2 separate regions of the Homo sapiens genome follow, and region 2 is linked to region 1. Evidence: fine-mapped expression QTL. A gene starts in region 1. The other region holds a variant in brackets. All regions are shown on one strand. Distances are from middle to middle.

Region 1 (4,392 bases):
AAAATTTAAAAATTTAAAAATTTTAATATTGCAACAGCAATAAAGTAGAAATATTCATTTCTTAAAAGAAGGTAGCCAGGGCCGGGAGCGGTGGCTCACATCTGTAATCCTAACACTTTGGGAGGCCGAGGTGGGTGAATCACGAGGTCGGGAGTTCAAGACCAGCCTGACCAACATGGTGAAACCTTGTCTCTACTAAAAATACGAAAAAAGTTAGTCGGGCCTGGTGGCACAAGCCTGTAATCCCAGCTACTCAGGAGGCTGAGGCAGGAGAATCACTTGAACCCGGGAAGTGGAGGTTGCAGTGAGCCAAGATAGTGCCACTGCACTGCAGCCTGGGCAACAGAGCGAGACTCTGTATCAAAAAAAAAAAAAAAAAAAAAAAAAGAAGGTAGCCAGAATGGGAGTAGACAAGGCTCCCTTTGAGAAGGGGCTGAGCAGAGACACTGCTCCCTGCAGGCCACTCAGTGTGGATGCCTTCCTGGGGCCTCACATTGCAGGCTCTGGGTATGGAGGTGGGTGCCAGACACCGGTGTGTTTCCTCCCTGCTACTGTCCCAGCAGGCTCCTGGCCTCCTCCCGCACCCAGGGTGCGGGCCTGGCTGCCCCCCCTTGCCCAGTAGCCAGCCTTTGGCTTAGATTGGGCTGGTGGCCCAGTAGGGGGGCCTCGCTGGGGGCAGGACTGCCCTGTGCCCTGTCTTGGCACCCAGGCCAGCTTGGGGCTCCACGGCCTGGAGCAGGCAGTGGACTTGGCACTGCCCATCGCACAAGCCCAGGTGAGAGCTTAAAAGTTGTCATGGTTCCATCAACCTCTTCACCAGACAGTGGGAAGACCCAGCTCCAGAGGGCCAGGTGGTTCCCCTGCAGTGACTTGCAAGGTGTTATTTACAGAGGGGACCCATGTGTTGGATGAATCATCCAAAAAACCCAGGAGTAGTTTCTATTCCTGTAGACACCTGAAAGTCCCAGCACGCATAGCTTTTAAAAATTGCTTGTGTTTGGTCCTCCGACAGGGCCTCCCAGCACCTCCAGGGCATGAGAGCTGCATCTGCCGGGGTAGTTTCAGCCCAGACTTTCCTGATGGGCTGGAATCTATGAGGGCTCCCAGCTAAGAGCCACCCAGGCCCACGGGTGAGTCTCAGCCCTCCCAGCCCTGAAGGTGGGAGATGCCAGGGAAATCTCTGCTTGCAGGGCCCTAGGAAGCCACAGGCCCAAGGCTGCCCCAAATCTCTGTGCAGGCCTGGGACAGAGAAGCCGAGGCTGGGGAACCTGTGGGGCCCCACTGACCATTCTTGCAGACACACATGCAGTGGCTGAGGTCTCCTCCGACGCTAGGCACGCAAGTCCTAACCTGCAAGTACTAAATAGCACCACCTTCCTTTCCTTTCTGTGGGCAGCAGTTTCAAATCCTAAACCCCCAAAGTGCTGGAAGCCACGACGGCCCTTGGCAGGTGCTGAGAATGGCTGCCCCTGTGTGGTGCCCCTGTTAGGGTGTCTGGGGTGCGTAGGAGGCTTCCTCCTCCAGAGGCTTCCCAGGGCTTGACACATGCAGTGTGATTTTTGGCTTTTTGGTTTTTTGTTTTGTTTTTTGGAGCTGCGGGAGGGGGGCGTGCAGATCTTCCAAGAGGGCGGGAGAGTGTAGACCCTCCTCCTGGAAACTGCTCCCCATGTCCACACTCTAGTTCCACACAGCCTCTCTGTAGACCCCAGAGCAAGAGCCCCTAAGCCAGACAGGGTGACACTGGAGCGGCTCAAAGAGCATCTGGTCCCACCCCTTTATTTCACTCACAAGGAAGTCGAGACCCAGAGAGGGGAAGTGACTCTCCCCAGAACAGGCTGACAGCCAGGCCTGGAGGAGAAATGACATCTCTCAGCCCTCTCAGCTGCACCGGACCACCAACAGGTAACAGCCTCTGGGCCATTTAGAGAAACTAAGGCACGGAGCCTCCAACCTGACCTTGCTCTTGTGGACTGCAGGTAACTCTCCTAAGATCAGTGGGGCTTGTGTGGGCCTGGGCTTTGTGCACACCTGTCCCAACTCAGCGAGCAGTCCCAGGTGTCAGGGCAGCGGCAGCCTCCAGGCAGCCTCCGTGACAGCAGCAGCGGCAGGCAGACCTGGTTTGTCCCCGATTACGAGTGACATTTTTCTACGAACCCTCAACTTCCTCCTGATCTGACTCAGGGTTGCAGCATCATGTCGGGTCGGGAAACCTCCCCATAGGCAGCCTGGGAGCCTTCCCGGGGCATGTAGCTCACGTGCCACCGCCCTCCACCAAGCCCGCCGCCCATTCCCCAGAATCTTGTTGGGAAACCACCAAGCGCCCGAGATGACACACTCTCAGGGATCATCCTGCAGCCCTGAGCAAGTGCTTACTGGGGACCAGAAGGAGCCTGGGAGCCCAGGCTCACCCACTCACCAGCTGCGTAATTTCTCTAGCCTCCGTTTACCTCTCTGGGGCATGAGGCAATACACGGTTTCTTCCTCACGGGGCGCTCAAGGGCAGTAAATGATGGAGAGGAAAGCCCTGGTTGCTATCCTACATTATAGCTGCATTGTTCTCTAACCCTAGCCAAGTGTCTCTTGGAGAGGCTGGGCGGGAAGACACAGCAGCACTTAGAACCCTGAACATTCTAGATTCTTCCCTGAGAGTGAGAACACAAAGTCAGGACATGTCTGGCTGGCCTGGCTTCACCTGGGCTTTGTGCTGCCCGAGGCAGTGGGGATGAGAGGACAGGGCAGGGCAAAGTGCCGCCCACAGCTCTGTGGAAGGCAAGGTTTGCCTTTGGTTCTGAGCGGCTGTCCCAGCTGTAAAGGGAGCACCAGTCACTGTGGAGCTGCAGCAGACCTGGCCATTTGTTCCGTCATTTCTTCACCCCCTCTTTCATGCAATAAGACCTTCCCAACGACAAACTGTATGTGAGGCTCGGTGATAAAGGTGAAAGGGACATGGTCCTGGTCCTGGGGTTGCTGGAGGACAGCAGGGACACGCTCCCCCTGGGATACACAGAGGACTTTTCAAGGCACCCACTCAGGACTGCACTGGGAAAACCACATCAGATGATGTGGGTGAACCTGGGAAGTGGGCATTTCAAGGAAGAGGTGGGATTTTTAGCAGTGGAGGAGAGAGTCCAAGGAGAAAGAGGAGCATGAGCATGCAAAGAAGTGAGGAGGGGGCTTGGCAACTCCTGGATCCCAGATGCTCTTGCTTGTGATGCTGATGGGGGCCAGGGTGAGCGAGGAGGAGAGACTCAGAACATGAGTTCCAGCTGGTCCCTCACGGCCTTTTTGACCTTGGGTAGAATCTTTAACATCTCTAAGCCTTACTGTCCTTATCTGTAAAATGGGCATAATTAGGGCAATCTCCTAGGAGTGTCCTGAGTTCCCATCGTAGATCACTGAGCACACTGCTGGCCACCTTTCACGTCCCCAAGCCGGCCCCTCCCCTCTCCCAGCCCCACTCCAACCCCCCAGCCCAAGCTCCAGCAACATTCAGGCATTGGGGAGATTGTGGTCATGTGCTCTGTCCCCTCTGTGTCCTGTTCCTTCTTCTATCGTGGCCCCCAGAAGCCCAGCTCAGGCACAGGCGGATGACTTTATTCACACTATGGTGTTACTGGTGGATACGCTGTGTATTCTAACTGCGGCATTTTTGGGGGAGTATTCCAGGGCTCCTCAAATCCATCCCTGCGGCTGTGCCAATGCTGCTTTTTTAGGCTCTGGCCCTGCCATCTCTGAGGTGGCTCACGCTGCAATGCTCTGTGCAGATAACAGCCTGGCAGCTGCAGGAAGGGCCACCTTCTCAGTTGCAACCCTCCTTAGGGTTGTGATCTTCTTGTTGCTTGTGTTCTCTGGAAAGTCCAGGCCACAGAGGGAAGAAAGGTAGGTCTGGTGTGGAGCCACATAGCTGGGTTTCGAGGTCTCAGCTGTGCAGGCAAAGCCACAGGGCTGCCGCAAGTGGGACACTGGATCCTTGAGGGTGTGGGCGGATGAGGGTACCATGGACCACTGGCAGTTGCGGGAATCCCAGCTGCAGAATGTGTAGAGTCAGCAATTAAGAACCAGCACAGGCCGGGTGCTCGGGCTCACGCCTGTAATCCCAGCAGTTTGGGAGGCAGAGGCAAGAGGATTGCTCGATCCCAGAAATTTGAGGCCAGCCTGGGCAACACAGTAAGACCTTGTCTCTACAAAAAATAAAAAATTAGGCCAGGAGCGATGGCTCACACCCGTAATCCCAGCACTTTGGGAGGCAGGTGGATCACCTGAGGTCGGGAGTTCGAGACCAGCCTGACCAACATAGAGAAACGCTGTATCTACGAAAAATACAAAATTAGCCGGGCGTGGTGGCACATGCCTGTAATCCCATCTACTCAGGAGCCTGAGGCAGGAGAATTG
Region 2 (4,392 bases), 55 kb before region 1:
CCTTGTCACCTGGGGGATAGGATGCGACCCAGATCTGCTCCTGAGCACAAAGATGAGCAAAATCAAAGGAAATTGCATGAGACTGAAGACCTTCTGTGTGGTCCTCCTGGGAGTGGCAGAAGTTTCTGGTGGAGGCGCAAAACAGGCCCCTGCTACACATAACTTCCATAACCACCAATCCACAGGCAATCCACCCACCCACACCACATCCCAGGCCTCTCCTTTCCGTGCCTGACCTGTGCTCCCGTGGCCTGCATGGGTGTGAGTCGCCTCTTTCTCCACTGCAGGCCTCTTCCAGGATGTCCTGGTGAAGAACACCACTGCCTGTCCAATTATACTAGTCAGAACCCTGGGAGTGTCTCTTGACACTCCTTCTCATCGTCCGCCAAACCCAGCCCATCCCCAAAGCCTGTTGATTGTATTTCCTGCTTGTCACACAAATGCCACCAGCTTTGATGGGCACCTTGTTCCTCCCCTTTGTGGTACTTGTCACAGTTGCAATTTGCCTGTGAGCTCCGCAGAAGACAGATGCCACGGCTGCTTATTCCTTGTCGTGTCCCTGGTTCCTAAAACAGTGCCTCGTGCATCACTGGTGTTCAATAAATACTTGCCAAATCATTGAATAAATAAGCAAATGAATGAAGGAATGCAGTTTTGAGTGAGGATGGTGTTGAAAAGGAATAAAGCCTTCCCCAGTAGTGCCTGAGGTCCATGTAAGAATGTCCTAGATGATAAGACAGGAGACACACGGGCGTGGTAGATGGGCTCTCCCCACCCCTCCCCATAAGAGTGCAAAGCTGGGACAAGCCAGAGGCTTCACAGGCCTGGTAACTGGGGGGTAGGGTTTGGTGATTCCTACCCAGGGCTGGGGGCATCGGGAGGCTCTTCCTCTCTACCTGGACTGTGTTTACCAGGTGTGTTTCCCATTCATTATTTTCCAGTGGGTACTGGGTTCAAAGTTTCTATAAGCAGTGGGGGCTTTGAGGTTCGAGGAAAGTGTAGTATAGCTTTCTCTTCCTTTTAGGAAGATTTCTGTTTTTCTTTTTCTTTTTTTTTTTTTTTTTTTGAGACAGAGTCTTGCTCTGTCACCCCAGCTGGAGTGCAGTGGCATGATCGAGGCTCACTCCAACCTCCGCCTCCCAGGTTCAAGTGATTCTTGTGCCTCAGACTCCTGAGTAGCTGGGATTACAGACATGAGCCTCTGCACCCGTCCTAGGAAGATTTCAAAACGAAGATGAGTCTATTGTAATTTAGAGGGCCATTTTAAACTCCCTGTGTTGGTGGCAGATGGTTTGGGTCTGGCAGCTAGCTCTATCCCAACCTTCTCTATCCACCCTGCAACTCCCTCCCCTCCCCCTCACATTTTATTTTGAAATTTTCAAACATTCTGAAAAGTTCAAAGAAGAGTACAATGAACTTACCCTGGATTCTCCAACTGTTAACATTTTGCCACAATTGCTTTGTCTCTGTTGGTCTCTCTCTGTCTTTGTATATTTCCACATACTTTTATTTTGCTGAGCAATTTGAAAGCAAGTTGCTGACATCTTGACACTTCACTTCTAGATATCTCAGCATCTCCTAATAAGGATATTCTCCCACAAAACCACAATACCATGATCACAACCATAATAGCACCCAGTGTACTATCTGTATTCAAATCTCTACAGTTG[T/C]CCCCGGAAGAGCTTTTAATGCTGGATTTTTTTTTCCTATCCAGGATCCAATCAAGATCATGTATGATATTTGGTTGTTATGGCTCTTCAGTCTCTTTTCATCTGAAACAGTCTTTCACCTTTTTATTGTTGTTGTTGTTCTTTGTTTATGTGAAATTAGTTTTTGATAAAGAGTCCAGGACAGTTGTCTTGTAGAGTGTCCCATATGTGGGTTAATCTGATTGCTTACACAAGATTAGATGCAGGTTGAATATCTTTGGCCAGAGTTCTGTACTGCATAGGTGCCACTGTAGACTTCTCAGTCAAGTATCACATCTGGAGTAAATAATGTCAATATCACATCTGGAGTAAATAATGTCAGGCATCACAACTGGAGTAAATAATGTCAGTATCACATCTGGAGTAAATAATGTCAGTATCACATCTGGAGTAAATAATGTCAGTATCATATCTGGAGTAAATAATGTCAGTTATCACATCTGGAGTAAATAATGTCAGGCATCACATCTGGAGTAAATAATGTCAGGCATCACATCTGGAGTAAATAATGTCAGGCATCACATCTGGAGTAAATAATGTCAATATCACATCTGGAGTAAATAATGTCAGTTATCACATCTGGAGTAAATAATGTCAGTTATCACATCTGGAGTAAATAATGTCAGTTATCACATCTGGAGTAAATAATGTCAGGTATCACATCTGGAGTAAATAATGTCAGTATCACATCTGGAGTAAATAATGTCAGTATCACATCTGGAGTAAATAATGTCAGTATCACATCTGGAGTAAATAATGTCAGGCATCACATCTGGAGTAAATAATGTCAGGTATCACATCTGGAGTAAATAATGTCAGTATCACATCTGGAGTAAATAATGTCAATATCACATCTGGAGTAAATAATGTCAGGTATCACATCTGCAGTAAATAATGTCAGTATCACACCTGGAGTAAATAATGTCAGGCATTACATCTGGAATAAATAATGTCAGTATCACATCTGCAGTAAATAATGTCAGTTATCACATCTGGAGTAAATAATGTCAGGCATCACATCTGGAGTAAATAATGTCAGTATCACATCTGGAGTAAATAATGTCAGGTATCACATCTGCAGTAAAAAACATCAGTATCACATCTGGAGTAAATAACATCAGGTATCACATCGGGAGTAAATAATGTCAGTATCGCAACTGGAGTAAATAATGTCAGGCATCACATCTGGAGTTAATAATGTCAGGCATCACATCTGGAGTAAATAATGTCAGTATCACTTCTGCAGTAAGTAATGTCAGGTATCACATCTGGAGTAAATAATGTCAGGTATCACATCTGGAGTACATAATGTCAGTATCACATCTGGAGTAAATAATGTCAGGTATCACATCTGGAGTAAATAATGTCAGGCATCACATCTGGAGTACATAATGTCAGCCACTCTTGGTCATTCTGAGTTTGATCACTAATCCTCACTCTGCTTCCCCTTTTGTAAGTAATTTTTAGAATCTTCACATGGTCACAGGATTAACTGAATATCCAAGTCACCAAACAGTTTTGGCAACTCTTGGTGATGCTTACCTGAAGGAAGCATTACATTGGAGGTTGGAAAATGGTAGTTTTTCATTCTTTTATTCCTGCTACATTTACTAGCTGGCCTTTTTTTCTGTAAGAATTTCCAAATCCCACTATATTAAAAACATTAATCACTGTGGGTTCGTGGAGTTTTAAAAATGCTATAATTGAAACTACAGTTATTCATTTTGATGTTCAAATCATCCCACATTTGAGCAGTGGGAGCCCTCAGGTCAGCTCCTGAATCCTTTTGACATGATCACATTTATCTTCCAAAACTGTTTTGCTTTCTGGTGTGACAAGAGATTCCATGCTCACGTTGTACATTTTCACCCCTGACCTAGAATCTACCATTTCTCTAACGAGCCCTGGTGCCTTTAGTGGTGAATGGTATAGAGAAAGAAAGAACCTGGTGATATATGCGATCATTGCTACTCGGCTGTCATTCAGTGGACAGGATTAGAAAACTCATTTTAAAAAAAATTACAAGTTCAAACTGATATATTTCCTACTCAAATTTAACATTACAGTTTTTCTTTCACTTCTTTACTGACTACTAGTATCTTTTTTCCCCGTCAGTAAAATATATATTTGCTTATTTGCTTTCCACTATACATGCACAAAAGAGTTTCAGAATTACAAGACCAATATTACTGCTAACAGTAAACATACTAAATAGAAGTTTTTCTATAGTTCTTCTGTTCTTAGAACAGATCCTTCTCCACAATCAGAGTGTTTGCTCTGTGTGGTTGTGGTATCAGTTTGAGGCGTTATCAGTTTGATTTCCTTCTTTTGCATTCTATTGTAGGGTATTCTTTATCCCACCTTTTTAACATTTAATTTTATTTTTAAAATACGTGAAACATTTATGTAGTTAAAAAGTAAAAATGGGTTGAGAATAGTGGCTCACACCTGTAATCCCAGCACTTTGGGAGGCCGAGGTGGGAGAATTGCTTGAGCCCAGGAGTTTGAGACCAGCCTGGGCAACGTAGGAAGACCTCATTTCTACAAAAATAAATAAATAAATAAATAAATGAATAAATAAATAAATAAATAGCTGGGTACGGTGGCGTGTGCCACTGGGAGGCTGAAGCAGGAGGATTGCTTGAGCCCAGGAGGCTGAGGCTCCAGTGAGCCACTGCACTCC

What was found.
Region 2: its variant is fine-mapped to the expression of GPR55 in whole blood (TOPMed, PIP above 0.99).

Annotation. Positions count from the first base shown.
Region 1 is chr2:230,922,678-230,927,069 of GRCh38, reverse strand. GPR55 (G protein-coupled receptor 55) reads left to right here and starts at 1,828. Exons shown (of 2, transcript NM_005683.4): 1 at 1,828-1,902. RefSeq lists a silencer at 392-571 and enhancers at 792-1,021, 1,842-1,891, 2,012-2,131, 1,695-2,483.
Region 2 is chr2:230,977,885-230,982,276 of GRCh38, reverse strand. No RefSeq gene overlaps it. Among named protein-coding and RNA genes, the nearest start is that of SPATA3-AS1, 16 kb to the left of the region's middle. RefSeq lists an enhancer at 388-527. The variant T/C (reference allele first, on the strand shown) is at 1,671.